Linked DNA regions of Homo sapiens: region 2 is linked to region 1. Evidence: fine-mapped expression QTL. A gene starts in region 1. The other region holds a variant in brackets. All regions are shown on one strand. Distances are between the middles of the regions.

Region 1 (15,768 bases):
GATAAATAATCCACAACTATTAATTCAACAGATATTATTTAAGAAATTCCTACCTGTAATTTATTTTCTAATATTTCTGCATCCTTAGTATTTATCGCTCAAAGATATTTGCAGCCCTCATAGCAGTGCTTGGAAAAGAGATTTGCTCTGAAAATTTAGAAATAAATTCCTGAGGTGAATACAGTTCAAAACTAAAATATATTGCTGTATTATATTGGTTTTTCTCATTTGAAATTAAAATCTAAAAAACCTTCATATTAGGTTGTGTGTGTCAAGCTGCCATTATAAAAACACTAAATGAATAAAATTTCGCAAGCAAGGCAGCATTATCAGGCTAAGTACATGTAGTGGGCTTATATATGGTGATGTTTTACATAATTCAGCTATTAATTCATCTATAGATTTACATTTCTTAAGTGCAAAAAAAAATGTAATTATTTCATTACATATGGAATTCACCTCCCAAATTTCTCAGAATCTAAGAGAAAGGATTGACATTTTCTGATATTTCATTTTTGCTTAAAATTAAGTTCTTAGGATGTTTAGATTTTATTATAAATATTACAACTTAAATTCCAGAGTTATAATGAACGGTCTATGTTTTGAAACACAGAGGGAGAATGGGGTAATGACTGAAGTACTGTTTTTTCAGTTTATTAGTAAAGATCAGCTTATAAGATGTCATTGTAAAGGTTTCTATTGATAATTACCATAAACAAAGATTAAAACTTTAAATACTAAGTTCTGGATTTCTAAGCCCGGTGAAAGTTTGTGCAATACCATGCCTTGCATTTATGATTTTTCTTTTAAAATGAACTATAAATGAAGAAATTTACACAGAATTGGAAACTATTCCTACTTTTATTTGCATTCTTCCTTCCATTCATTGCTAATGTTCAACAATAAAGCATTTTAATTCTAAAGGAATTGTTGCTTTTAACTTGAGTGTGATTATTTTAGATCACATTTTAGAGCCCTCATGTAGGTCAATGATACTTAGAATTTTTTATGTCAGATTACCATTTTTAAATGTTCACACCTAAAATTAGTCTACCAGTCCAAGATAAAGAATGGAAGTTTTTTTTTGTACTCCATTTGATTTGTTCAATACTTCACTTTAATCTTCAAGATCCAGTATATTATTTTTTAAATTCTAAAGCAAATGCTGAAAAGCCACAATCCAGTAACACAGAAATGAATAATAACACTAATTTATTCCTTTCAGAAAACACAATGATTGAAATATCTTGGAAATATTACAATATCATACTGAATGAGGTTGATAAGGTATTACTCTGAGTTTAAGTTCCAACTTATTAAATGTAATATTTGCTAGTCATTCTGCATAGTCAAGCATATAGACAGACATAATTTGACAGCAAAGGTTTTATGACATAGTAGCTATAAATAAAATATTTGTAATTTTACAAGAATCTAATATGATTCAAAACCTAGTAAAGTCTACCTCCCCAAATCGCTCTTTTCTTTTTTGATGTAATTTCTATTTTTTATAAAATATGTATCATAAATTTGAATAGAAAATATCTAGATATGTACACTGTATAACCATGCACAAAAGCTAAAGTTCGATCAATGAATTAATTTTAGTTATTTTAACTAAAACTGGGCAGTTTATTCCTACTACTAGATTGCTCAAAGAGCAACCAAATGTAATTGAAGCCAAGCAATTCACACTATTTATAGACATTTTTCAGAATCACCTGCTTTGTAGTGATTTTTTTCAGCAGTTGTAAAGTTTTGATTTTTAAGAGTCCCTTTGAAGACGTGGCAGATGTTGGCTTTGCTAATAATGCTGGAAAGCGTAGCAGGTTCAAAGTTACAAAAATGTTTAACACATATAAAATATAATGGTGTGTTTTTCTATTAAATTTGGTTATTTTCAATTGTCAATAAACTTACATAAAGGAAGCCTAAAGTCCATAAATATTTGCTTCCAAAACATGAAGCTGCTAGAGTTTGCATATGTGTGTGTCCATGTGCATTTGTGGAGGGAAAGTGCATAAAATATATGCTAGAGAAGCTTACGTATTATAGTTTTAAATCGTTACTATGAATAAAATTGTAAGGTTTATAAATATTTAAGCTGTTTTTCAATACTTTCTGGTGCTTAAAATTCTATTAGAATTTAACACGGTAATTAGAATTAGCACATACACATACAGTCTAAGTATTAGATGCAGGGATACAGAATTTTGGTCCTGACTTTACCCTGGATTTATGTACTGAATTTTCTCTCAACCATAAATGCAAAGTAATTATAAACTACCTAACAAAATACAAATGATCTCACTATATAGGATGACATTTTTATCTAATACAATTTTAAATTTCAGGAGTTCCGAAATCACTTCAATTTTATATTTTAGAAATATTGAAATACTAAAATGTGCTATAAGCAATGAGAGATATACGTATTAATAGCATACCAGGATCATAATCATTTTCAATATTGTTTTAGTTTGTGCTAGATCAAGATGTCTATGAAATAAAATATCTTTGAAGATAATTTATGGAACACCTAATGCAATTGTTACACGAGAAAGATATCTTTAATTTAAATCTATCTCAATATCTGACAAATATACCTTCAGCTGAAATTGGCAAATAAAATTTTATTTTCAATAAGTGTACATAGATTTAAACAGAAACTATTGTGATTTTCCTTTTAGTCAATATTTCTTCAACATATCAAAGGAAAGAAAAGCTCATTCTAAATCCCCAGTATTTTTATCCTTGGTGATGACTAATTGTACTTTCCACTGAAGTTTTAATCTGTTAATAATTTATGTAGCTGACACAAACACTTATATTTGCTTGTTTTTCCAGTACCCTCATTATCAGCTTCAAAATGTAGAAATGAATTTAATTTTGTTAAATGGTTATTTCCCACTAAGTTGGGGGGGAGAGATAAATTAGTTTTGTTAAATTATTCCATTTTTTAAAAAAATTATTAAAATAAATTAAGGGAATCAGTTATTGAATTCCGTTTTCTCAGTTTTCCCCAAACAAAATAACATGTGCTTGTATGAAAATTGTTTGCCCTGAGAAACTTAAGGGCAATGGCTCAGTTCAGGAAGCATGAAGAACAATCTATCATGTAGGTTTCTCATTGCAAGAAATAAAATGAACCGTAAGAGCTTATGGGAATTGCAAGAGTACGCTCATCAACCCGAACTGGGATCTGCTTCCAAAGTTACACTGATATCAAATGTTCAGTTTATGAAATTGTCACTGCATTCTAAAATCGACTGTTTTTCTAATAAAAATTGAAACCTTTTTGCTATGATTAACCTTTCAACTCACTATCTAAAGAGAGTTTCACTTATAGTTAGGAAAATACATTAAATATCAGTGACACTACTGGTAATTTTCTTATAAAAACTAATTTGTGATGGAACATTAAAAGTTCACCCCCTGACCTTGGAAAATAAAAGTTAGCTTTTGAGACCGTGAGAGAAGAATCCATCCTATAGTAACGCTGAAGAACAATTGATATTGCTGTGAATGGTGAAGGAATATTAAATATGCGGCCAATCATTTTCATTTATGTGGCATCTTACCTAAAGCTTTACACACGATCAACATTTTTCCAATCCTTCAAACCAACATATGGGATTACCTTCTAGGACTATTATTAACCCAATTCCACAGAGGAAGAAAAATATGCAAATATTATATTAAACAAATGACACCTTCCAAAAGTATTTAATCCAGGTTGCACTATACCCACGAAAGAAAACTCACAAGTCTCTTAATTTTAAAGTATCTTTTAACAATTTTATAAAAATACAGGTAGGTAAGAGCTTTGAAAACTTGTCTGGAAACTTTGAGTTTCTCTGGATTGCTACAATTTATTCGGCACGTTGTGCCTTCAAGCACCAGAGGTCAGGAAGGTTCCCCTTTTGCATGGCTGCTCAAATTATCCCCACTGAAATCAGCGCCTCCTGCGCGCACCCTTGCATACCCCTTTAGACACGTATCTAACTAACAGTACCCGAGTTGCTGTTGCTTCGCAGTATTTGTCTCTACTAATACCCACTTGGTAGAGGGATTTATTTTCCACTTTTGAAACTTAGGTTCTGTAATTAGCTTACACCACATGGACATGTACTATTAAGGTTCGTCTTTCTTCCAGTGTGAGCATCTATTTATTTACAATTCTCTGACACATTCCTTAAAATCTGAATTCCTAGATAATGTCTTCTTCCCCAATAAAGGGAAAATTTTACCATTTGAAATAGGGTGCTATTTAAAGAACGCTGAAATAAGAATGTTAAAAAAAAAAAACTGAAACTTTTTTTTCTCATGCGCTCTGCCAAGTTCCATTGCAAGTTCCAAACATTGTGCAATAATTTGGAAATCCAGTTAACGATGGGAAAAATCGAGCCACTCAGAGTCGGCAACTTGCAAGAGAAAAGTCAAGAAGCGGCACCCGCACGCACGCCTGCCCAACGGACGCTGCATCCCTGGGCGCACGCCCCTCCCTCCCCAGCGCTGGGATGGAAGGTCACGCTTCACAATCGATTTCACAGCCACTTGTCCTTTTTTATCAACCTTCTGGTAAACTAGTTTAGGACTTTGGAGGGCTTAGAGCTGCTGGCTGTATACGCATTGCTCTCGAATAAACACGTGTCCCCAAATATCAGGACCAAAGCTTCACCGCCGAATTTGGCCGCAGGAAGCCACAGAGGGCAACACATTCCCATCTTCCCTGCTGCCACCCTCCAGTGCGAGAATCTCCCCTAGTATCTCTCCGCCCCTTTTCCAGCCCGGCGCGCACTCTCGAGGGTGCCTGGCGCGCCCTTACCTGAGCTGTCGCTTTTCCTCTTGCCGCCGCTTCGCTTCTCCGCCTCCGCAGGTGACAGTGCCTGGCGGCCGTAGTCCCCCGGCGCGCACGCGGCCCCAGTCGGGGTGCTGGAGCCCAAGCTGGAAGAGTTGGAGCACAGGACGGGCGGGCTGCTCCCCAACTCTGGGGGCCCTCCAGAGTCGGGCTGGAGGCAGAGGCTGTGCCGAGCCGCACTCGGTGGGGAAGACATCTGCGGGAGGTGCCAGTTGGTTTGCAGAGCCTGGTGCTGCTGCTGCTGATGGTGGTGATGGTGGTGGTGGTGGTGGTGGTGGTGGTGCCCCCTGTGATGCTGGCTGGCAAACATGCCCTCTTCGTTGGGGTATCCCGCGATTATGCAAGATGAGGAAGAAGTAGAGAGCTCGGGGTAAGACATATGGTCAGATCTTCCATGGAGGGCGAGAGAGGATTGGGAGAACGGGTGCAAGCCTTGCGCCGTGGCGTGAGGGCTGCGCAGGCAGCCAAAGAGCGGGTGTTCCATAGCATGCAAGTTTCGGGTTCCAGGCAGAAGACTTCACGGCGGTTCCAAAGGCCACCACCCTCTGTCACTTTTTCACTGGAAACCGTGTGATTTTTTTTTTAACCTCCCAAAGCAATAGCGGTGCACTTCTGCAGAGCTCGGATAATCCCGGTCCTGAGCCCCAGCGGCCAGTCTCCTTTACATATGAACAGTCGGACCTGGAAGAGCTTCCCTGAGCTACTCAGATGTCAAGAGTGGGAGAGGTTGAAGCCAAAAGAAGGTGGTCCCAGAGAACTGCTTTCAGGGGGAAATGGCTCTGAGAAGTTATAAATAGAGTGTAACGTGAGCTGGGGGCTGGCTTAGGAGCCCAGAGTTGACCACATGCAAACTCCCTCCAAAACTCCCGCTCAGCCTGCGCCACGCGCTCCCAGTTCCACTTCCTATCTCCTGCTGGACGGACGTAGAGCGTCCACGCCCGCCCAGCACTGCCGGCTGCCAGGACTACAAGCGGCACGCCAACGTCTAAGTCCCGCCCGGGAGGGCAGCAGCTCTGCCCTCCAGACTCTGGAGGCCTGGGCGCGGCGCACACCACCCCCAACCTAGCACCCTGATTCCTACCTACTCACTTTCCTCTCGGGGAAACGTGACTTGTCAGTGTCATTTGGGAACTGTCACCTGCAGAAAAGCTAGGGATACGCCTATCCTTTCAGGAACACGAAAGAAGTAATAGGGTTAAAGGAAAAGACCAGAGCTAGTTTGGCGCACCCTCGAAGTTTTTCAAACTTTGCATCTTCCCGTGCCCCGGGCGCCGCAGCGCGCCTAGGTTTTCGCAGCTGGTTTCTGTCGGTGGGTTGTTAATAGGCTGGGACGCCAGATCTGAGGTTGCGGGGATGAGCACCATGGCCTGGAAAAGGCGGTTCTCAGTGCAGAAAGAAGACGGACCTGGTTGGGTGGGTGGGAGGAAGGCGTGAGTCTGAAAGGGTTGCAGATGCCTGCTCCCTGGCATCCTCACGTGCGATGCCAGGTGGAGGCTCCCTTCCCCCTCTTTCCCGGTCCCGCTCAATTTCCTAGCCACTTGTCCACCAAGAAGAACTTTTCCTGGGTCAAGAATATTTCCAAGCGATTGTGTCCCGGTCATATGAGATGTGTAGATTGCACGCGCATTTCTAGCCTTTCCCCTCAGGAGCTAGCCCAGATCTCCTCGGTTTCCTCCAGAAATCCACTCTCTTCTGCTCAAAAATAAATCCGCTAATGCATTCCTTACCACCAGGGTTCCATTTACTGAGAATTCTTACATTTCGATAGCTCCCAAAATTCACTCACCGTGGGCACTTGGTTACAATTTTGCACCCCTGAAAATAAAATAGAAAACTCGCCTCTAGTAAGCATGCGAGAGCGAGGGCAGGGCTTTGAAGCTGCTACTTGCTTGGCGGGCGACAGGGTCCGCTGGGGGCAGAGTCGTTTACACACAAGTGAGTGGCGCTGTAATGAGCAGGAGGAACAGTCATGTCCCATCTGCGACCTGTCGCATCAGGAGAATATCTGTAGTCACCTATTCTGCCCGGGGCCCCAAATGCGCCACCAGCAGTGTCGCCCCGTTTTTTCATTGTCTCAGGTGTCCAGAGGATGATGACCAGGTCTTTGAAGTTGTTAGTGGGATTAATGGGTACAGCAAACTGGGCTAGACATCTGGTTTGAATTAGGAAAAAGCATTGATTAATCTTTGAGAGGTGTCCCCAAAGCAGAACCTTTCCCCTCCTCTTCCAGTCCCCTTGCTTAAGCCTCACTATCTTCTTTTCTTTTAAGTCACACTGCAGAATAGTGGCTTCGCAATAACATCCGTGTGAAAGATCGAATTGTTTTCTATTGCTCAGAGGTGGGGTGGAGTGGGGGTTGATCAGGAATTCTGAGATTTGTAAGCGCTGCTTTCTTTAACGGAAATTGAGCTCTATTTTGAGGGAAATTAGTTTTGCAGACTTCGTTTAAAAAAAAAAAAAAACTAAATCTTTTGTTCACCAGCTGCTCAGCTTTTCAGTCTGGGTCTGAGCTGAAACCTGCTGCAAGTCTGACGGTAAGACTTTCTTTGCCGATATTTTGGGAATCTAATATTGTTTTAGACTTCGAAAAGGGGTGTTGTTCAGGTTGCACGTTTCTAGGGGCTTTAAGCACTCGCAGGATGGCGTCCAGGACTTAGATCTTGAGAATATCTCTTCCTGCCACTCCCCACGCCCTTGGCTCTTTAAGAATAAAAAGAGGTGGGGGAGTTATAGTCCTCCAATATCGTCGGAATATTTTTTTGTATTTTCATTGTGTTTATGGTTTCAATATGTGCTCTGATATTAAAAGTTAAAGTACAAAGAGCAACACTAAACTTCCCCAACTCATGTAGCTTCTCTATGGATTCTGGGTGAAAGCATTAAAGGCTTTATTTAAAGTGAGATTTAGGCAACCACCTCAATAAACCTAACCAGAAATATTTACATAATATAATGCTGTCAACTAAAAGCATTGTGGAAAATGTCAGACAAGACAGACTAAAATTACTCATGATCTGCAGACATCAGTACAAAACATCCACAACGGTCCTTTTGGTTTGCATTACATTGGTTTAGAGGAAGCTAAGCAATTACTAAATGAATGGATTTGAATTTAACCAGTGTGTTGCAGGTAACCAGCAACAAGCACACACAAACCTTTCATCTCCCGAGGCTGCCACTTCTTCTTAAACCTGCCCAGTGACTGTGCTGGATTTTTTCTCACTCACTGTGTCAGATGTTAACAACCTGTCCAGAAGTTTCTCTACAACCTGCCCCAGTCAGTCAGCCTCTAGAACTGTGGGGCCAGAAACCTGGGAAGAAAAATTTAAGAAAGGTTAGAAAAGGAGGAAGTCATTCCAAAGGCATGCAATGAAAACAAAGCTAGCAAGAAAGGTCTTTTTAATTGAAGACACAGAACATTTAATATCAGCAAAAATTATGATGTCCAGTTTTCTTATAGAAAACAGAATATAAGGAAAATATTTGGAAGGAAAAAATGAAGGACTAAAAAGGACGTCTTGGTGAATTCCAGAATTAAATATAACTTTAATTTTCTCTGGATTTCTAAATATGTATTAATCATTACATAAAGATTTTTAAATTTTATTAGAATATTTGGAATAAGATAGAATATTGAATTTTATGTTCTAGGTTATAGAGAAATTTTTAAAATGTAGTAACAACGGGAAAAAAATCCCTAGCATTTCCTATAATAGCTACTTCAGTGTTCACATCCATAAAATCCAATATTGAAAAGATGCCTTTTTACCTAATGATATCAAGAAGAATGGTAAAAATTATAAAATTTATTATAAAATTTCTATATAACAATCATTTACAACTATGTATGATATAGTATTTATCCTACATTTATAATATACTTGAGTTTTCCTGAAGATAAGTTATATTAATGCCAACATTTCATGTAAGGTTTCAATATCAAGTAACACATTATAAAGAGGTTGATTCTGTGAAAAGGTAAGCTACTTAGCTCTTGCAGGGTCCACAGCTATAATTATTTTAAACGTAGGCTAGGTTCTTTAAACTTGATAAGTGTGTATATCTATTGTTTCCTCGGCTTAAATAAAATGACATTCAAGAGTAAAGGCAGAGATTTCTTTTTATTAGGACTATTTTATTTTAAGGGGACTAGAGCTCATATTAAGCAATACAACAAAATTGTATTTAAATTTTACTTTAAGATTCACAACGATTCTTTTAAAAGTTGCCATTCTTCTGCACACGTGTGACATGAGTTGTCATGGAACTTCAAATATTTAAAATTAAATAGGAAACTCTACTTTGAATTTTACCTAATAGATAAATTTTCCTTGGTAACATATACTCATAATATATGAACTAAAGGGTGGATAATTAAATTAATGTTGTAATTTGTTTCTGAAAACTTTATTGGGTATAGAAATATTATTTCTGCTATATTTTGCCAAAAAGTAGCAGTTATGTCCTTCAGTTGGTTCTTCTGAAATAAAGAATTTTGAAAATGTATCCAAATATGCTAAATACCCAATGGTAATTTATGTGATTTATGATGTACATTATTTTATAAAACTAAGGAACTGATTCTCCCCAGGAACTATGCATTATAAAGTTTATGGAACAATTTTGCTATGGCTAATGCATGTTATTTAGTGATTCTGTATACTTTTACACATTTTTAAAATGTTATTATTTTTATATAACATTAATTGGTACATTCACAGTAAAAATTGTTACATTCATTTTACATGTACCAAAAGAAATGAATACTTAAAACCTTACTTCTAAACTGTAAAACAATCCAACGTACTTTGTTTTTCTAGTTTCTAGGTCTTCCTGCATTTAAATTTATTTCTTTCAGGAATTAGTGTTTTTCTTCCATTCAATTCCGGTATAGTATAATCAATGAAATTGTTCTCAACGCTAAATATAACTCTGCCTAAAGCAATAAGAGAGGAAACAAAATATATCAAAATTAGAACTATTTAACGGATGATCTTTAGAAAGCCAGCATGCAATATAGATTATGACTAATAAAATTAAATCTAAAAGATTGAATTAAAAATTCAAAATATATGCATTCTTTCATAATATGTATTCACACTTAATAAAATTCTAATGATCTCTTGTCTTTCTTTTTCTTTTTTTATTTTGTGAGGCGTCTTATGATTGGGAAGACATAGATTGCCTCTCAAATTTCAAACACTTCCATCTGGACTTCCTTTTGTTCACCTGTTTTAAATCCATAATTATTTGATAGTTAACTCATAATAATGCTAATAGACAATAATTAATTTCTACATTTTCATTTGCATTCACGTTGTATGTTATTTTTATTGATAAATGTAGGCCTTTTCAAAATTTTGTCATTGAAAATTATATCCTTTCCATAACAGGGAGAGGTACAGGCAAACTAATTCAAGAGAATTCTATAATGAAATGCTCTATATTATGTTATATTTTCTATAGCATCCAACTCATAACCATTACATTTCTATCCACAATTTAAGGGAACTACACCGTTTATTTCTCCCATGTCTTAAAAAGCAAGGCTATCCTTTTATATGAATTGAATTTAGAAAAGTTCACAAACCTCAGAGAAGAAAAATTGAATCGAAAATACAGACAGGAATTATAAGTAAAACCTTAGTCTTCTGTTTTAAGTTTTCCAACTTGAAGAGTTCAACATAACCAATGTAACTTTGGCACTATGATAAGTTTTTCTTGTGTGTTTTTATTTTTCATACTTCATCAATTTGTAGCAAGTTTTATTCTTAAAGTGGCTTTTCCATTTTGAGCTCAGGTTTATGATTTGGATTACTAAAAACCTCTGTGTTTTAGCTGTTAGTATAGTTCTCCAAAATATTTAATTGCACACTCATATTTTATATGATTCAGACTCAACAAAGAAATACCAGCTGCCTTTTATGTCAACTTTTTTTTTTAGGAATAAAGGAAAAATGTTGTATATTTGTATACCAAACAAAATGAAAAGTTAAGGCCAAATACAAGATCTCTTATAAAAGCATATTTTTAAGAGTTTAACATTATAATAGTACTTTGATGGAGCACAGGTTTTTTTTTTTTTTGGAAGATTTTGAGAGTGATATGGAGTATTTCATACAAGGCAATGGCTTTATGGAAATGGATCAAAACAAGGATGAAATGATTAAATGACAACTGTCTGCCCATGTCTTAATTAACATAAGAAACAAGAAAGGTAACAGAAGGTCAGAATGGGCCAAAAAAAAAAAAAAAATCAGAAGAGTATTTAGCAGGTGAAAAGACAGAAAGTGAGACAAGCTTAAAGATATTAAAAATAATTTTAAATTTGTTAATACATAAATTGTAAGCCACATATGATCATGGTAAAAAGATTCCAGGTTCATATCTCGGTTTAATTGGAATTTTAAAAATAAGTAATCAGAAAGGTTCATATTTAACTGCACGGCATATATACTGTTGATAGAAGTAATAATGAAATATTACTATTCTGAGAAACAGTTTCAAATAATTAATGTGAAATGTGGATATAGATGTGATCAATGCTTAGACATGTGTAGGCTATTGAATATCTGAAGTTCTGAATAATCACTACCTTTTCGTCTTACAAATTTGTTACCTGAAACTCATTGTAAGCAAAAGGTTTTTCTAAATTTCATCTATTTTTAGAGGATGATTTCTGCTAAGTTGGGGTCATAGTATATGGGAAGGGAATAAGCTGGTTTTCAACAGCTGTTAGTGTCTGAGGAAAAAAAAGAAGTCCTGGGCCAACTGCACTGTAAAGCACTTCAAAGCACAAGTAAGGAAATTCTGTACCAAACACCAACCAGAACCCAGGAGGAATACCAGCTCTGAGCTCTAAGGCCCAAGACAAGGCAATTTCTCATACCACCAGCTAACAGTTGTTTTCATCCACAAAAGGGCCTGTGATCAAAACAAAGCTGTCTCTATATTATATAAGATTGTATAAATACTAGATGCAACCTCTTCAACCCTTAGAGTGACTAGAAAAGATTCTTTTTTCCCCACCGGACACGCATTTTGCATGACCTTTGTCCTATAAGCTCAAAGTTGCGGGACTCTACGTTGGTCCAATTCCACTTCTAACAATTCATTCTTGAGGGTATAAAAAAACTAATGGGTAGAAAAAGAGCACAGTGACTGAAAAGGTCAAAATAATCTTGTAATACTTCATGATAAAATAGAATCAAACTGACAACTGATGTTGAAAATGGACTTTATGAGTAAAAGAAAACTGACAGGTTTTTCCTCTAATTTAGGACATCTGTAGTAATCTGAAGCAGCATTTCTGCAAATAACTTATTAAAGATGATTAAGTGTGCTGGTTAAAGTGATGGTAATGTTTCTCTGAAGATATACTCAAGGTCAAATTAAATAGACTTGACCCATAATCAAATATAATAATACCTCTATTTATTGCAAACAATTTTAAGAACATTCCTTTGCTATAGTAACTATAGAGCAATAAAAATAGCACATTTATGACCTTCCATGTTAATTACTTTATTCATCATAATTATCATCTGTGGGCCAGTAGTACCTGTCAATAGCTTGTGAAATGTTTGAATTTCTACACATTTTGTTCTTGGTTACCTCTGATATCCTACCTCTTACAGTTAATGATGCGATTTGATCAAAGTTGAAAGCTGAGTCATTTTGGGTTTTAAGATCTGATCATACCTTCATCAGATAGACTCCACCAGGCAAAGGTCTCAGGCCCAGGTAGCACCACTTGGAATCCTTCCAGAACCAAAGACAAGCACATAAGTTTTAAAACTGCAAAAATGTTCACTGTTGCACATGTGGTGATAAAGCCTATTTTTAGAGAAGTGTGTATTTTTAGAGAAGAAAGATATAAAGAATCACATAGAAGCTTGTAAATATTATGCACTGTAAATCTAAGGTTATTGAATTAGCTATTTCTCTTTCTGTAGCAGTATTAAAGGCTTGCTAATCTATGTCTAGTTCTGTTATGTGAACAATATTTTTCTTAAGAAGCAATTGTTAGATCACTGTAATCTGGCATTTGTGTCAAATATAGCAATGGCTAGAACCAAAAAAAGTGGGTTATTTTCCTTGTACTGTACTAGCAATTCCAGTGATCAAACATTGCTAAATCTCAATTTTCAGTGAGCAAGTCCCATGTCAGTCTCTCTCTAAACAGCCTTATTGACAAGTCAGTTGCTTAAGTCAGAATTAGGAACCCACAATTGCCAAGCCCCTCCTTCCTTCTCCTTTTCCCCCATGCAATCAATCATCAAGTGAAGTATTCCCAATTATACTTATTTAATGTTCATTAACTCCATAATCCTCTCCACCACCAGTCAGTACCTTATTTGGGGGCCTCACTCATCTTGTTTAAATTATAGAGGGGTCCCATGATCCTGTAGTTCCCTAGAGCATTCCTCCATCTTCAGAGCCAGGGTGGAGAATTGATTTGGATCTTAGCTCTGTCAGTTTCTAATTCTGTGGATATATTCATTTGTTAACTCAAGAGAATATTACAATAAACAATTTCGACAATGCTGTGAACATACTTACCATCATGACTGGCATAAGCTCCACAAATGTTTAACAAATTTAAGTTACATCTAGACCTCACTGTGGAATGCAGATTCGTGTGGTTGTTGAGCACTTGAAATGTGGCTTTTCCAAATTGAGATTCATTTTAAGATTAAAATGTATACCAGATCTCAAAGACTTCTTGTGAAATTAATGAAGGTTTTCATTGACTACATGTTAAAATAACCGTGGTTGTATACATTGGGCTAAATAAAATATACTATTAAAATTAACTTTCTTTCTTTTTTACTTTTTTAATGCAGATGCTAGAAAACTTAAAATGACCTATGTGGTTTACATTGGACAGTGCTAAGCTAGAGGGTGTCATTTAACTTTTTCTTTCTTTTATTCCCTCCCCTTGCAAATAGGTACCAAATTACATATATATCTGTCAAAATGATGTAGGACCTAAAGTCTCTCTGTAAGTTGATCCTTTTGACCCCATGATTAGGAGCTTCACAATGTGGTACCACACCTGGAAACCTCCAGAACAAGATCTCAAGGAAACACAGGAAATTCCTGAAACAGCAAAACCCCCTATGTGAAGACGTCTGTTATTCCTTTGTGTATCAGGAGCATCACTGTTAATTAACTGTTGATACACTTAAAACAGCTTGGTTGGCAATGTCCTTTTTGAATAAAGAAGAGCCAGGTGTGTTTTTCAGGATGAACTAGACAATGCTGTCACAAGTTTACCTCTACATCTTATTGCCTTGGAAAAATTTCCTGCATATCGTGGCACAAGATGGTTGGCTCTCCAGGCAGCAGTTGGCGTTGTGAATCAGTCATCTCAGCATGTGTCTCCAAGATCCCACAGCAGGGGGAAAAAGAGGTGGAGGGTCACATGCCTGGTGTTACATACTTTGAGGCAGAGGTGGTAGGTGCCATTTCTGCTCACAGCTCATGGACCAGAACAAAGCCATGCATACCTGAGAGAGGACCAGAAAATATTCTGAAGCAGATGGCTATTTGGTGAGCAGTAAATGTTTCTGTTACAACAGGTCTTGACAAACTTCAAATGTACTCCTACTAGGCCTACTTCACACCACTAAACTCTGTACTTCCTGTTGCTTGATGGCATCTTATGCTGATGTTTTCTATCATAGTGTCCGGCACAAAACAAGAGCTCAATACATATACTTAATAGCGCATTTAGATCTAAGAGTTTCACTTTATCAAAAGATTTTAGTACCTACGTAGCTATTGGGCCACATCAGGAAAATGTAACTGCTTCTACAACTGCAAAGAAAATTTAACTAATTGTATGCTCATCCCAGCTTCAGGTTTTTGTTTTGTTTTGTTTGCTAGCTTCTTTTTATTTCATAATTTTTGCTTTGTTTTCTGCCCTTGAGCAGAGGTTCATTTCTAGTTTTCACTGGAATTAGAACAACAGTTGTGTCCATATGCAATAACAGTGTTTCAAATTCTTTGGGGATTTGCCCACAGTGTCTGCAGTCATATTGTGACACCAGTTGTGATGCCAGTCTCTGTAAATCAGACTTATTCCCAGTGAGACATTATATATTTTTGCAGCCAATACGATCTATTTTATAGCGATTTATAGCATTGTCTCTGAAAAGGATACTTTGATTTGTGTCTTGTTTTTGTCAGTTTTCAACACTTTGATTGTGGCCCAGGTTAATTAATATTTTGTGTCTAGGTTTCCTCATCTCTAAAATAAAGATGTTTATTTCTATAGCTTCATGTTGACAATTAAATTATATAATTTATGTTACTCAACTAGCAAGTAAATTGATGTACAGTGTATTTATAAATGATAGATACTATCTTTATGTTAATTTTTATTATTGTCATCATTATCATCAATTTTCAGGTCCGTGTTCTGACTAAAAGGAAGCCACACTCTGTCGAAAACAAGCTTTGTAAGAAAATTTTGAAGTATTTACTTATATCTAACCATTCATTCCACCTTTTCTCCCAAATAACACTCTAATATCTTGAGACATCTTGTCTAGGGCCAGATTTCATAAATGCTTGTGAGGCAGGAGAATAAGTTCCAGAGGCAGTTCACACTGCCTAAAGCCAATTCACACTGACTTCCTATAACTAAATCTAAAGGAAAATCTCAACTTTCCTCGCCCAAGTAACAAAAGAATCAGAGGTTATACTCCCTTTGCAACCTGCCCCTTTTCTGCCTGGCAGATGAAAAATGAAAAGTACCTATGACTGGTCCCCTCCCACGACCAGCCAGACTGGTCACGGATCACTACTTCATTTACATAGGGCGTAAACCGAGTAACCAATGGGAAACCTCTAGAGGGTATTTAAACCCCAGAAAATTCTGTAACCGGTGGTCTCCAGCA
Region 2 (15,768 bases), 48 kb after region 1:
AAACTTTCCTCAACACTTCTGTGTATCTGGGGTCATGAAAAATATATTTCTGGCCCGGCGTGGTGGCTCACGCCTGTAATCCTAGCACTTTGGGAGGCCAAGGCGGGTGGATCACGAGGTCAGGAGATCAAGACCATCCCGGCTAACACGGTGAAACCCCGTCTCTACTAAAAATACAAAAATTAGCCGGGTGTGGTGGCGGGCGCCTGTAGTCCCAGCTACTCGGCAGGCTGAGCCAGGAGAATGGCATGAACCTGGGAGGCGGAGCTTGCAGTGAGCGAGATCTCACCACTGCACTCCAGCCTGGGTGACAGAGCAAGACTCTGTCTCAAAAAAAAAAAAAAAAAGAAAAATATATTTTTAAGAGAGCTTCAGTGGAGGTAAATTCTTGCTGCTAAAGAATTGTAGCCAATACACATGTCCATTGCCTTCTAAGTGAATAGTTGGTAAGCATTCAGGGTAAACATTATGTGTATTAAAATCAATCAATATGTATAAACTTATGAATGAATATTCAATATTTATTGTGTATTTATGGTATGTTAAAGAACATATTGACGAACAAAACCAGAAAGCTTCTTTCATGAAACTCAAATATATTTTAATAGAAATATGCTCAATTGGTTTTACAGTAATATATTAAAAATATGATGGCATAGTATAAATCATGGGCATTGGGGTCTCACATATCTAGATTCTTGTACCAGCACTGCCACTTACTGGCTACGTGACCTTGGGCAATTTATCTGACCTCTTTAAGTGGTCTTAATTGTGTTGTCAGAGATTATTTCCTCCTGTCATTTAGAAGGTGTAATGGAAAAAACCACTGGATTAGAGGTAGAATCCTGGCTTAAGGTTTCCACTCCTGGGTCCAGCACCACCCTGCTCTGGGTCTCAGTTTCCTTATGTATGAAATAAAGCTTTGGATAATGTAATTTGCTAAGCCTCTTTCATATTTTAGGGCACAAAGAACCTTTACTTTCACACTTAATTTCACATTCATGAGGGAAAATTAGCTTCCTTAATGTTTCCCCTTCTTTTATTTTTTAGATCCTACTGCAAGGCTGTAGCTTCAAATCTAGGAGCAAAATATGTTGAAAGCTTTAGAGTTTCAAAATCATTTATTTACCAGAGAAGACCTTTGCCATTGGATTTCAAACAATGGTAGGAGTGGTTTTAAGAAACACAGTCTACACTACAATTTTTTTCCCAAGGGCTTTGAAAGAAAGGCCTCTCCTTCTAAAACTTACATTTTTGAGAAAGGTGGAGCTGAACCCTCATCTGTAGAAAACATCAGTCAGAATCTATGATTCACTGCCAGAAGCCTTATTTTGGAATCTTTTCTTAATAACAGCCCTGTATAACAAAAAGATGCTTTGTATTTCAGCAATGCCTTTATTTAGACCACCTTTCCAATGTATTTATAAACATGTCTAAGAAACACAGGCTATGTCTAGACTATCGAAGCAAAAAGGCACCAAAATCAAACAGAAACAAAAGTAGAGCATTGGTGAACTGGTATGTTCAGTAGTCTGAACATCCATATTAGTTTATTCCACTGTTAACTCTAATAAAGATTGTAGAGAAAAGTATAACTTTTATGGCAGCAGATTTTTATTTAAGTCATTCCCTATCAGTTTGGACATTTTCAAAACATATTTATTAACTGTGATTGGTGCTGATAGCTTAAAGAAATGTAGGTTATTCAGGGCTTACCCACATGAAAAGCTAAAAATCAAAATAAGAGTGTCTGTTCAAATCTTTTGCCCATTTTTAAATTATGTTGTTTATTTTCTTATTATTGAGTTAGAAGAATTCTTTATATATTCTAAACACAAGTTATTTCTCAGATACATGTCCTGCAAATATTTTTTTCTCAGGTTTTTGCTTGCCTTTTTGTTTTTATAACAGTGCCTTTTGAAAACCTAACAATTTTAATTTTGATAATGTCAAATGTACTGAGTCTGTTCTTGCTTTTTGTGTTATAGTTTAAAAAATATTTGCCAAGCTCAAGGTCACTAAGATTTTCTTTTTGTCTTCCAAAACTTTTATAGTTTTAGGTTTTTGATCCATTTTGAGTTATTTTTACGTATGACATAAAATAAGGCTTCTTTTTTTGCCTATGGCTATAAAATTTTTCCAGTAGCGTATGTTGAAATGCTTATCCTTCCCAGTTGAAATTCTTGGGGACCTTTGGCAAAAATTGATTGACCATAAATGCATGAATTTATATTTAATGTCTATAATCAATTGATCTGTTTTCCTATGATTACAGCAATACTCACTTTCTTGATTACTAAACTTGTATAATAAGTCTTCAAATCAGATAGTGAAAAGTCCTTCAAAATTATTTTTCTTTTTCAATGATGTTTTCATTATTCTAAGTTCTTTGTATTTCCATATAAATTTTAAAACAAACAATTTCTACAGCAAAGTCTACTGAGATTTTGACTGGGCTCGCATTGAATGAATTTGCAGGGAATTGATGTTTTAACAATACTGAGTCATCACACTCTGAATGCACCATATTTCTCCACATATTCAATCTTTAATTTATGCTAGGTATCTTTTGTAGTTTCCAGTGTCTAGAACTTATACCTCTTTGTCAAATTTATCCATAAGTAGTTTATATTTTTATACCATTATAAATAATATCATTTTATAAGTTCATTTTTCTAATTGCTCATGGCTAGTATAATAGAAATATAATTAATTTTGTAAATTGATCTTGTATCCTGAAACCTTGCTAAACTCATTTACTAATTCTGATAGTTTCTTTGTAGATTTTTTAGAATTTTTTACATAAGTGATTGCCTTTTATTTCTTTTTCAACCTGATTACACAGGCTGGAATCTCCAGTAAAATGTTGAATAGAAATAATAAAGAGTGTACCACTTTGACCACTTTGCTTTGTTCCTGAATTTACAGGTATAGTATTCCGTCTTCACCATTAAGTACGATTTGAGTTGTTAGTTTTTCATAGATTCCATTTAGGGATATTTAAGGAGTCATCAGACTCTATGGAACACACACATGTAAGATTATTATTAAAAGGCAACGGATTAGATACAGAAAGAGAAAGAGAATTGAGGCAAGCATCAGATACCAAAGAGACATTCCACAAGAAGTTTCCCCGGGACCACTATTCATATTCATGTCCCACATATGTAACAATCTGTATCTCCAGCCATGCTGGACAAAATGGTTAGGCCAGTTGCAAATATCAGTAAAGAAACTGATTTTGAAGGCCATTAGGAGAGTTTTGGACCTTAAACAGCATAACATAAATGCCATTACTCTTATCCTGACCAAGAGTCACAAATGAGGCATCCTCAGAGATTAAAAAAAAAAAAACAAACAACAAAAACAAAACAAAACAAAACAAAACACAACTTTTTCAGTCTAGTTGTAAAACAACTCAATCTCCTCACCTTCTCAGTTTGAGGAAGTTCACTTCTATTCTTGGTTTCTTCAGAGCTTTTATTAGAAACGGATGGTGTGTTTTATCAAATAACTTTTCTCCAGCTATACAGATTACCTTTTTCAGCTGTTATTAAAAAGAATCACATTGGTTGAATTGAAAATCTTAAACCAGGCAGGCATTCCTAGAATAAAGCCCCATTTTGTCATGAGATTATATATGAGACATGACATATATATGACATATTATATATGTCATGAGATGCGTGTGTGTGTGTGACATAAACATTTGGTAAAACCTTGGTAGAAATTTTTGCGTCGATGTTCATGATGGATTTTCATCTCCAGTTTTCTCTTATTTGGCTTTGGTATCAGGATCATAATGGCCTTATAGGATTGAAAAACATTCTGTCCTCTTCAATTTTCTAAGAGTTTGTGCAGAATTATTATTCTTTCCTTGACACTTTGGTGGAATTTCCCCATGAAGCTATCTGATCCACAATTTTTCCTCATGGAAAAGTTTAACTATAAGCTCAATTTATTTAAAAGAGTTACGGCTTTTTGAGTTATATTTATTTTTTAGTGAGCTTTGTTGGTTTGTGTCTTTCAAGGAATTTTTTCATTGAAATTGAAATTGTTAAATTTGTCATAAAATGTATTATATCTGCTTATTATCCTTCTAATGTGTGCAAAATTACCAGTGATGTCACCTCTCTCATTACTAGTTCGGTAATTTGTGCCTTCATTTTTATTTTTTTAAATCAATCTAGCTAGAAATGTATTTGTCTTCTCAAAGAAGCAGCTTTCACTTTTATTGATTTTTCTCTGTTTTCTCTTTTTACCTTTACATTTAGTATTTCATTTCTTCTGCTCTATTTGGGATTGATATTTTTCAAATTGTGTTAGTTTCTTAACATGAAAGTTTAAATCACTGATTTGATACCTTTTCTCTTTTTTAAACATAGGTATTTAGTGTTATAAATTTGTCTTTAAGTACAGTTTTAGTTACAAGCTAAACTTTTGGTATGTTTTCGTTTTTATTCAGTTCAAAAAACTTTCTAATTTTTTTTTATGTCTTCTTTGATCCATAGTTTACTTAGAAGTTTATCTTGTAGTTTCTGGATGTTTGAAGATTTTTCTAATATATTAGTTATTGGTTGTTAATTTAATTTTATGTTGGTCAGATAACATGCTCTGTATAATTTGAGACCTTCCTAGAAATATAGAGAACTTTTTTATGGCCCAGAATATAACATTTTATGGTAAACGTTCTGTGTGCACTTAAAATGAATATGTACTTTGTTGTTGTTGAATAGATTGTTTATAAATATAAATGAAGTCTAGTTGGTTGACTTCTTTAAAGAAGAATGCAATCTTATCCTACATGTGTGAATTTCTCTGTTTTTCTTGCAGTACCATCATTGCTTTCTTTCTGTATTTTGAAGCTGTGTTACTTGGCATACACATATTTTGAACTGTTATTTTCTATCAGTTGACCTCCTATATCATTATGCAGTGGTCTTCGTTAGCTCTTTTAATACATTTTCTAAAAGTTAAAAAGAAGATTCTTACTATGAATCAGTGCTTCTATTACCCTTCTGAGGAAAGTTATAATGTGATATAAAGGCTACATTGAAAGTTCTTCTTTAAATTAACTATACTTTATTCCTAAAATTACAAAGAATCAAGGTATTTAACAAGTCAAGTGCAATAAATTAAAATGTTCTTTTAGCATAAAGCAACACTAGAAAAAATAAACATTATAGATGGAAGTTAAATAGTTTTCAGTGGCTCCTTTGAATATTTTTTATCTCTGAAACCCACTCTGTCTAAAATTACTGTAGTCATTTTAGCATTTTTTCATTAATATTAGTATATATTTTCCCATTCAGTTATTTCTACCCCATTGCTATCTATATACTCAAATTAGGTTTTTTAAGGCAGTGATAAGCAATTCTTGCTACTTTATCTAGCAATATCTGCCTTTTGAGTATTTAGACTATTTATATGTAATGTGGTTATTGATATTATTAATTAATACTGTCTCCTTACCCATTGTTTTCTATTTGTCCCATTTTTTTTTCTTCTTCCTCTTTCCTTTCTTTTTTTTTTTCTTTAGGGCTAATTTAGTATTTTTATGATTTCATTTTGTTTATTTTTATTAGCTGTAATCCAGCAATTTATGGCAAATCAGCATATGAAAAGATGTGCAACATCATGAGTAAGTAAATTCAAATTAACACTACAGTGAGATATTACTACTCACTAGAATCAGTAAATTTCATTTGGATAATAACAATAATTCAGATAATAGTTAAATTAGATAACAAGTATTGGTAAGAGAGTTAAACAACTGAAATTCTCATACACTACTGGTAGAAATGTAAAAATTGTACAGGCAATTGAAAAAACTGTTCAGAAATTTCTTAGAAAGTTTAACATATAATTACCTTATAATCCTGCCGTTTAACATCTAGGCATTTATTCATGAGAAATAAAAACAGATGTTCAGATAAAGATTGTACACCAATGTTTACAGCACCTTTATTTATAACAGTAGTTTGAAAACTGTCTGGGTGCCTTGGCTCATGCCTGTAATCCCAGCAGTTTGGTAGGCTGAGGCAGGTGAATCACCTGAGGTCAGGGGCTCGAGATCAGCCTGGCCAACATGGCGAAACTCCGTCTCTACTAAAAATTCAAAAATTAGCTAGGCATGGTGGCAGGTGCCTGTAATTTCCACTACTTGGGAGGCCAAGGCAGGAGAATCGCTTGAACCTAGGAGACAGAGGTTTCAGTGAGCTGAGATCGTGCCATTGCACTTTAGCCTGGGCCACAAGAGTGAAACTCCATCTCAAAAAAAAAAAAAAAAAAAAAAAAGAAAAGAAAACAACTTAAGTCTTGTAGACTTGAAATCATGAGATCCATATATTTGGAGAGGAGAGCTTTGTTTCTTATAAAGGGTTTCCGCCTGCAGGCTGGCCACCCTGCAGACTGGGAAGCATAGCCTCCAGCAGAAATCAAAAGCAGGTACTTCAATGGAAGAAGGATGAGACAGGAATTTATACTGGACAGGATGGCTAAGTATACATATCAACAAGTTATAAAAAGAGTTATGAATATTCACAAGGGACACACATATGCTAGTAAGCAAACATACATATTACATATGTCACATGTTCACTTTAGGATGGAGAATTAACATTTAAATGTATTAAAATTAGGCTGTATACATTAAAAGATGACAGACATCTTGTGGGCAGCCTCTGTATCTGGCCAGAACCAGTCCATGGCTGGTAGTAAAAAATCAGAAAGGAATGTGCTATGAAACTGGTGAGCTGCTGTGTAGAAACTACAAGAAGGGAGAGGATTCCAGCTGCAGTGTCCAGCAGTTGGCTGAAATCAGCAAAGGAGTGAGTTTTCATTTCTTTATTTTTCCAGGGCCAGTTTCTGTTTAACCCTTAGAAAATAATCTAGTAAAGATTGGCAAGGAATGAGGTACACCAAGAGGTACTCAACCTCCCACCTTGTCATGACCAGGAAACTCAATTTTTCAAAGTTTTTCTGGAGTCTTCTTGGGCAACAGGTGTCTGCTCAGTCAGTTGCAGGGCTTAGGATTTTATTTTTATTTCACAATCTTTACAAAAATGTAAATTGATAAATAAGATAGAATATCTATGTAACGAAATTATACTCTGCAACACGGAAACATATGAAAATAATTATGCTGAATATAAGACGTCAGATGAAAAAGAGTTCATAGTGAATGATTCCATTGTATATAAAATTTCAGAAAATATAAATGAATCTATAGTGACTGAAAGCAGATTAGTGGTTTATTGGGTTTGGGGGATGCTGGGGAGTGTTGAGAGGGAAGAATTACAAAGCCTGATGAGAAAATATTTGGGAATCATGTCTGAGCTCATTATCTTGAGTGTAATGATAAATTCTCATCAGATGATTGATAGATGACAGATACATAGATAGATAACTAAATATGTTATGTCAACTATAGCTCGTTAAAATTATTTTGAATACAACAAGATAGTTTGAACAGAATTCTAAGTACAAGGTAGAAAAGAAATTTATGTTATTGGAGGACAAAGGAATTGGTGATCACTGAGAACTGGAGCAGGTACCGGAGATATTTTAGAAAGTATGAGACTTAGGCTGTATGTTGAAGGCAATGGGTGTGTTCATGAAGATAATTTATGATTCAAAAAATGGGCCCTGTTTTTGGATGATGTCAAACACCACCAGTTTCCTATCACTGTACATAGAAAGAATACGCCTCTATATGGTGCAAGCAAAAAACAATTGTATTCAATTTCCCTTTTGCCCATTCAAAACTTTCTCACGAGGCTAGTTATTTTCTGTTCCTGGGTGACATCTACAGCAGTCCGCATGTTGTAGCCTAGTCGTAGTTCAGGAATTAAAATGTCCAGATAATTTAATTGTCTAAACTCCCAATTTTATTTCTGGTCAGTGATCTTTCTTCATCCCTCCTTGTTGTACCTTTTCAGGTA[C/T]GGAGCCTGCAATGAAAAAGGGAATGTGTCTCCATCATTTCTATTTTGTAACTATTGCTTCTTTTTGTCCCCAGGTTTCTATCCTCTATAGCATAAGAAGAATTAGAAAAAAGAGCAGTGAGCGAAGAAACATTATGACTTGTCTGTTACTGTTGTGATCCTGCTTTAGGAAACGTTTACATCTGACTCTTTCACGAAGTCCTACTGCACTTCCCCTGACTTGGATAATAAATTGTATTATTTTTCCCTTCCCACTCAGTCTTAGATTTCTGAAGATATATCCCTTTGGTTGAGATCATATCAAACCTGCAGATGGTCCTCTTCATCACAGTTGAAATCAATCTCTGACCCGTTATTTCTCACTTGGCACAATCCCTGTATCACAAAAAACACATTGCAGGGAAGTCTGTGATGGCTGCTTTGCCGCTCTCTTTTCCTGTTTCTCTCAGAGATTGCTCAGGAACCTGTATGTTCTGTTTTTTGACTTCAGGAGCTGTATATATATATATATATATATATATATCTCCAGGAGACATATGTATTGTATATATATGTATATACATGTACATGAATGTATATATAGATACATTTATATCTTATATATACATTCATATACAGATACAGATATACAGATACATATATCTATACATTCATATCCACATACAGATATACAGATACATATACATATGTATATATCTCAAGCTCTCTAGGTGATTAGATTAAAGATCCCATAGCTGACTTCAGTTAAGGCTAGGGCACCCTCCATTCTTTTTTGCCTCTTTGAATAGAGACAAAAAAAAAATCCATAGCAGTTCAGCAACTGTATAAAAAAAAATCCTCTTAGCTCTTTAACCTGAAAAATGTTGTGCTATAAAGGATATGTAGCTAGAGTTCAAGAAACTGTTTGCATTTTTGTTTCTGCACTGTTTCCTTTGCTAGTCATATATAGGCAGTAGTATATCACCTCAGTGTGGAATGTGGAAGCACTTGCCTGCTATTGTTTTCGTCTTGGAATTTGAAGTCTCCACCAAAACTAAAAAGAAAGGTTTCCATTTGAACATCCTGTTACAAGAATGTATACTGCCAAGGATGTGATGTAATTGAATTTGACTATCAAATCTGTAGTTCTCAGAACATAGAATTGCAAGAGGCATCACTTATGAGCAACTTGCAAGAACGTGTGATTAGTTTGGGTATTTAATTTTTTGTTTATTTGCATTTATTTCAGACTCTGTGCCAATATGCTGTTAAGATTTATATTGAATAACAAAACAAGATTATGAATAATTCTATAAATGTCAAAATACTAGCAAGCAATCTTATTAGTATTTTTCCGTGAAAGCTATCAAAATAACGATGTTTTGAAAAATAATTCCTTCCTATAATATCACAGATTTATCTAAATTGACATTCAAATCAAAGCTTGTTTCTTGCAACTAATAACGCATGATTGGTTATTTGGGGCATGGGATAATATGACTAAATGCCAAAATGTCTTATTATGTCTTGAAATTATTAGTGAGAGTTTAATGTAGAAAAGTTCATTACAATTCACAACACATTAAAATAACAAAGCCTTTAAAACTTTTTCTTAAAGCTAAGGAGAATATGTATAAGTTTGTTAGAAGGGGGTGTCAAAGACAAAAATTCAAACAAGTAAACTGATTTTATTCAGTCTATTACAATAGGGAGAACACTCCAGATCTGAATATCAGAGTTTCTCAGCAGGGTGATTTTACTTTGGCATTTATAAATAGGAATAAACAAGTTACAGGTGGACAATCATCCAGTTGGGCTTATTTCTATAATCAGGGAGTGTCTCAATCAGCTGAATAAGAAATGTTTATTTCTGTGTCTAGTTAATATCACGGGACAAACATTTCACCTAATCATTGGTGAGCCAAAGAATGGGAATTTAGAGCTTTTGTATCTGGCCTTGTCATAGGTAAACAAGGAGCTCATCTGTCAGTCTTAGGAGAGTCACAATAAATAGTGGACATCAAATCTTATCTGAGTCATATGGGGAAAGGTGGTTCTTTGCAGTAAACAATTTCCTGGAACATAAAATGGTGGGGGTTCTGAAAAACACAAGAGTGGGGAATGATCCTTAACCACAACTGTGTTCTGGAGCAAAGCGCCCAGGTTCAACATTGTAAATCTTACCTCTGGACAGGTATTAGGAAATTGATTTAGCAAACCTTCCTTTATGTGTTAAAGAAAAAACTAATGAAATTGTTGTGATTTTAATTTTTATCATTGGTACTTTGCAAATAAAAAAAAATTTTGACTTTCAGTCCAACATGTAAAGACTTTAAACTCATCAATCCCATCCTCATAACCAAAGAAAGCTGAACAAATTGAAAGTTAACAATGCTACTGAATTCCATCAGAGAATTAAAGTCCTGAAGAAAACGAGGAATACAGAGAGTCACAATTTGGCAGGAACAGAAGCAGTCAGAAGACATGATCTGGTAGGAACACTTACAGGGAATTGACAAACTGTTGAAGACTGACATGGACTGGCTCAAGGGGTAAAACCTCCTGGGGCCAGCCTTGAAGAAGCTGTCATATGTTCTGGAGGTTCTGGAGTGTTTACCTCCAGGGGCCCACCAGGTTCTCAGCGTGAAGATCACAGGAAATACTATCAAGATTCTGGCAGAGGAAAAGGAAAAGCAACCATTTTTAAACATCCCCATAGTCTTCTGTTCTTCCTAACAAAGTCCTGCTCTATTTTATCAGAACTTAAACAATTTGGGTTTTTCCAGAGACTGAAGGACCTTGGGGAAGGGAAATACCCAGTTCCAGCCTTCTCTAGCCTTCCTGTCTCACCTAAAGAGGAAAACAAGGCTGACAAGCACCTTTGAAGGTCAGGGACCAAGGGCAGAAGCCCACTAAAATATTAATCACAGGAGTGTAGAACACTTCCCCTCCTCCCACACATTTCCAATTAGACTACTGAATAGTAATAAGGGATTACAGCTGAAATAAGTGCAAAGCTCAGACTCTACTTAAGAAAGAGTCTAAAAGGAAATCCAAAGACAAAAGGAGGTGCAATAACAAAGATACTAGAAGAAAATTTTAGCCTCTGACACCTGTAGATACAGCCTAACCCCAGCCAGATAATACAAAACTTCATACTAATGGCCTATTTATTTCAACACCTTGTACCTGATATGTCACTTCTGGCTTTGAACAGCAACAGCAAAATCACAAGGCATGCTAAAAGGTAAAAAATAATAATCTAAACATACAAATTCAGCATCACAATTAGATTTAGAGGTGGCAGAAATTGGAATTTTCAGTCTGAAAATAGAAAATAACTATTAAATATCCTAAGTGCTCTCTTGAAAAAGTAGACCCCATATAAGAAAAGATGGATGCCATAAACAGAGAAGACACAGAAATTCTAAGAAATAATACAAAGTATATGCTAAAAATAAAAAATTATATATTGCAAGAAAAAGAAAAAAAAAATTCTTTCAGTGGCCTGATAGGCAGACTGGAGGCTGAGGAAAGAATCAGAGACCTGGAGACATATCAATAGAAACTTCCCAAACTGAAAAGCAAGGAGAAAAAAATGAAAAAATAAACAAAATATCTAAGACTGTTGGACAGTTACAAAATGTGTAACAAACATGTAACTGGAATACTGCAAGAAGAGAGAAAGGAATAGAAAAAAACATTTGAAGTACTTAATGGCTAAGAATTTTCCAAAATTAATGACAGACGCCAAAACACAACACTAGGAATCTCAGAGAACACCAAATAAGATAAACACAAAAAATACATACCTAGGTATATAATAGCCACACTGCAGAAAATCAGAGATAAAGGGAATATCTTGATAGAAGCCAAGGATGGGGAAACCCAAAACATCTTAACTATAGATGAACAAGGATAGGAATTATATCAGATTTTTCTATAGAAATCATGCCAGTTAAAAGAAAGTGGAGTAAAATATTTCGTATTGAAAGAAGAAAAGCACCAACCAAGAATTCTATAAAGAATAAAATTATCATTAAAAAGTGAAAGAAAAATAAAGACTTTCTCAGACAAAAATTGAAGGAATTTGTTGCCGGTAGACCTGCCTTGCAAGAAATATTAAATTATTTAGGTCAGAAACTCTAACTATACAAATGAAGGAATCGCATCAGAAAAGGAATTAAACAAAGGTAAAATAAAATTATTTATTTTTACCATTCTTAATTGATAAATGGATTTGTTTAAAATTCTAATAGCAGCAATATATTTGGTGATTATAGCTTATGAGTAAGTGAAATCAGTAACAGAAATATTACAAGGCATGGGAGGGAGTAATTGAGAATGCTTTGTAATAAGGTACCTGTACTACACATGAAGCAGCACAGTGTTACTTGAAAATGAACTTAGATTACTTGTAAATGTATATTGCAAACTCTAGGGCAAACACTAATTTTTTTCTGGGCCACGTAATGCACTGTAAAATAGAAGGAATAACAATCACACAAAATAAGCTCTCAGTTCACAATAAAATTAAACTAAAACAACAGAATGATAGTTGGAAATTCCCCAAATATTTGGAGATTATAAAACAGAGTATTAAATAACAGACCAGTCAAATAAGAAGTATCAGGAGAAATTAGATATATTTGAACTAAATTAAAATGGAGAAAAAAATCAAAATTTGTAGGATACAGTGAAAGCAGCATTTCAAAGGAAACTTATAGTATTGAATGTGTATATTAGAAAAAAAAAACCTGAACTCAAAAAATCTAAGCTTCCACATTAGGAAACTAGAAAAAGAAGAGCAAATTAAATCCAAAGTAAGAAGAAGATACAAAATTACAAAAACTAGAGCAGAAATCAGTGATCTTGAAAACACGAGATCAATACATAAAATCAATGAATCCAAGAGCTGTTTTTTTTTAAAGATAAGTAAAATTTATAGACTTCTACCCAGGTTAATACCCCTGCCCCCAAAAGAAAAGAGAGAAGACACAAATGACTAATATCAGGAATGAAAGAGGGGTCATCACTACTGATCCTTTGGATATTAAAAGGATAATAAATAAATATTATACATAACTCTTTGCCCACAAATAAACCAGATAAAATGAATCAATTTCTTGAAAGATACTGCTCTTCTGGGGACACAATTTGAGAAACCTTGCTTTAAATGAACTCAGATTGCCATGATGTTTAAATTTTTCTGTCAGTTTTTTTTAACAATCTTCATCCTTAATATTGAAATTCCATTTGTCATTTCTCCTTTATCTTAAAGGAATAACAAAAGCAGACACCTACAACTGTATATCCATTTATTCATCCTTTAAACTTGTCTATCTGTGTCTCACTGAACACTGTGTAAGATGCAGAGGATTGTGTTGGCTAGGGATCATTTGGTAGCAGTGAGAAAAAAGTTTTAGTCAGCTGAAGTGGAAGAAGGAGTTTACTGGTGGGAATCAATCCATCTCACAGAATTTACAAGTAGCGAGTACTGCTGGGTCTAAGGAGGTGCTAAAACCAGGAGCTAAAAAGTTATTATGAATCTAGGTGTATTTGTGCTTATTGCTGTCCCTCTCCCTTTCTCTCTCTCTCTCTCTGGCACCACAGGTCCATATTACATCTCCTTCCTATTCAAGTCCCCAGTTGAGCTGACTGGAGTTATTTTCTACCAATTACAAGTGTCAGGGAGAGATAGTAAAATGCTCAATTTTGTCATCTGCGACCCAAACATCTGTGTTTTAGTCAGCCTCCAGGTAATTCAGATACATGCTAGAGTGTGAGAAACCTTGGGCCAGAGCAATTATCCAGGAAGGAGGCTTCTGAGAGTTGTTGGCAGCCAACATTGACTGCTACAGCTCGGAGATGAGTGCACCATGGGTGCAGTCAATGGAAGACATCAATGGCTTCCACTACAGGTGCTAAGTGCCAGCTCCTCTCTTTTTATATTCACTTAGAAAATTTTACTCTAGGACACAAAAAATTCTAAGAGCAGAGGAGACAAGTGTCCTCTAATGTGTCCTAAAATTGATAATAACCGTAAAAAGTTATAGGTCAAATAGGAAAAGGAGCACTGTAGAAGCAGAGCATCTTACAGTATCTTAAGCATATTACAATTTACAATGGAAAACTGCAGAGTACATTGGTCTTTGAACAGAGCAGTCAGAGAAATTCTACCACTGAATAGCATGGCCTCATGGGCTGAGTGCTTGTTAGATATGTGACCCCGTTGAAGCACTTCTATTGAATGTGTTTGCAGAACAAGATAGATGGACACTGTCAAGACCCACATGCCCTCTCAAGGGGAACTTCAGAGTTCTGGGATAGGAAGCTCTTCATTCATGGATGAGGAAATCCATTTACACACAAAACCTCAGCACAAGGTTCATCAACAATTCTCTGACACAAGAGAGATAACATTTCTTGGAAGATTTGGAAAAACAAATATCCTAAAATAATTTATTAAAGAAAATAGAAGATTTTTTGAGAAAATTTACTTAGTGTTCTATCTTACAAAAGATAGAGGAAAATATTGCCTTAATTCTTTCTAAAAAACTGACTCGAATATGTCACATGATATGAATTATAAATGAAGACTCAAACTATGTTTTATTGGACTCTCCTATGTAAACAATAGGATGAAATGTAATTCACTGGAGACCTATCAGTAATCTTCATGGGGGCAAGTATGGTGGAAGGAATGGGCACATCATTGAACCTACTTTGATGTGCAGAATCATTCTATCCTTTTATAGTGTGATCTAGCTCATGGGCCAAAGGAAACAATTTGCTTTTCTCTGTTATTATTCACAAGTCCTACAGCAGGGTTTGCTACCAGATTCTGAAGTCTAATAAAATATTATCATGACTGGTTAAAAATAAATGACTGATGTCTACTGTAAAAAATTAGCTCATATAGTACCATTCTAGGAGGTACTATTAACAAAGTATAATTTAGTAAGTCCTATATATTATGATATAATTTACAAATTTGTACTCTAGTCACCACTAAATAAGCCTAATAACCAAACTTTCATAAAAGTAATGTATAATTTTCTCTGATTAAATACATTATTACAGAAGGCAAAAGCAGATTTTGCCAAAGTATATTCCTTTGACACTCTGAGTTGCATATGATTTTCATAAATACTTTTATGCATTATATTGAGTTCAAAATCCATGGCATATGTTTAACATTACATGTTGAAGAAATTCCAAGTTTACATTCAATAGTTAAAGTAAACAAATGCTTAGAAACACATAAAATTTTTATAAACTGTCACTACCTAACTGTCACCTGTCAGTGTAAACATTTTAAAATTAACAGACATGTAATCACTGGCTGGAGTGATCACATGAAAACCATGGCCAGATAAACTTTGGGAAAATGAACATAAATGTTTCATGCAGATAAAAGAAGACAAAAAAGAAGATGGTCCATTACAATTTGGAGAGATCACAGCTGACCCCCTTCCTGCTTTGTGTGCTGCCTGGGCAGAAAAAAACAGAGCCTTTCTGGAATCTGAAGAGGGAGAGGGGGTAGAATGGGTGTTCTGCCTGCGGTGGTCATCCTATGGTAATCTAAGAAGGTCTATGTGTCTGAATTGGCCAATATGTGTGACATACTCCACGCGTACATTATGCTGGCATGCCCAGAGTTGTCATGACCTAAGAGCCATCAATGTGTCTTGACTCTTGAGTATCATATCAGTCATCCCAGACTGCTAGTTCATCCAGAAGGAAAAAGATGGTCAAATAGGTGTTTGATAAGTGTATCAGTAATGCCTTTTTTCCAGCATCCTTTCGTACCTTGGAGTGGTTCTGCCCTTGCAGCCAGAATGTT

Direction of the effects. Alleles are on the strand shown, and positions count from the first base shown. SD is a standard deviation of normalised expression in the study named.
As copies of T replace C in region 2, the expression in prefrontal cortex of the gene that starts at base 7,321 in region 1 goes down (small effect, 0.32 SD a copy in CommonMind).

The links. PIP is the estimated chance that this variant, and not a neighbour inherited with it, causes the effect.
Region 2: its variant is fine-mapped to the expression of LINC02587 in prefrontal cortex (CommonMind, PIP 0.95).

The regions. Positions count from the first base shown.
Region 1 is chr7:15,681,058-15,696,825 of GRCh38, forward strand. It overlaps LINC02587 (long intergenic non-protein coding RNA 2587), which reads left to right and starts at 7,321. Exons shown (of 2, transcript NR_110094.1): 1 at 7,321-7,395; 2 at 13,813-15,768. MEOX2 (mesenchyme homeobox 2) reads right to left here and starts at 5,626. Exons shown (of 3, transcript NM_005924.5): 1 at 4,829-5,626. The coding sequence starts at 5,345. LOC105375166 (a long non-coding RNA gene) reads left to right here. Exons shown (of 4, transcript NR_134258.1): 4 at 1-923. RefSeq lists an enhancer at 3,990-4,822.
Region 2 is chr7:15,728,821-15,744,588 of GRCh38, forward strand. LOC105375167 (a long non-coding RNA gene) reads right to left here. Exons shown (of 3, transcript XR_927058.2): 3 at 6,354-7,949. Among named protein-coding and RNA genes, the nearest start is that of LINC02587, 48 kb to the left of the region's middle. The variant C/T (reference allele first, on the strand shown) is at 7,944.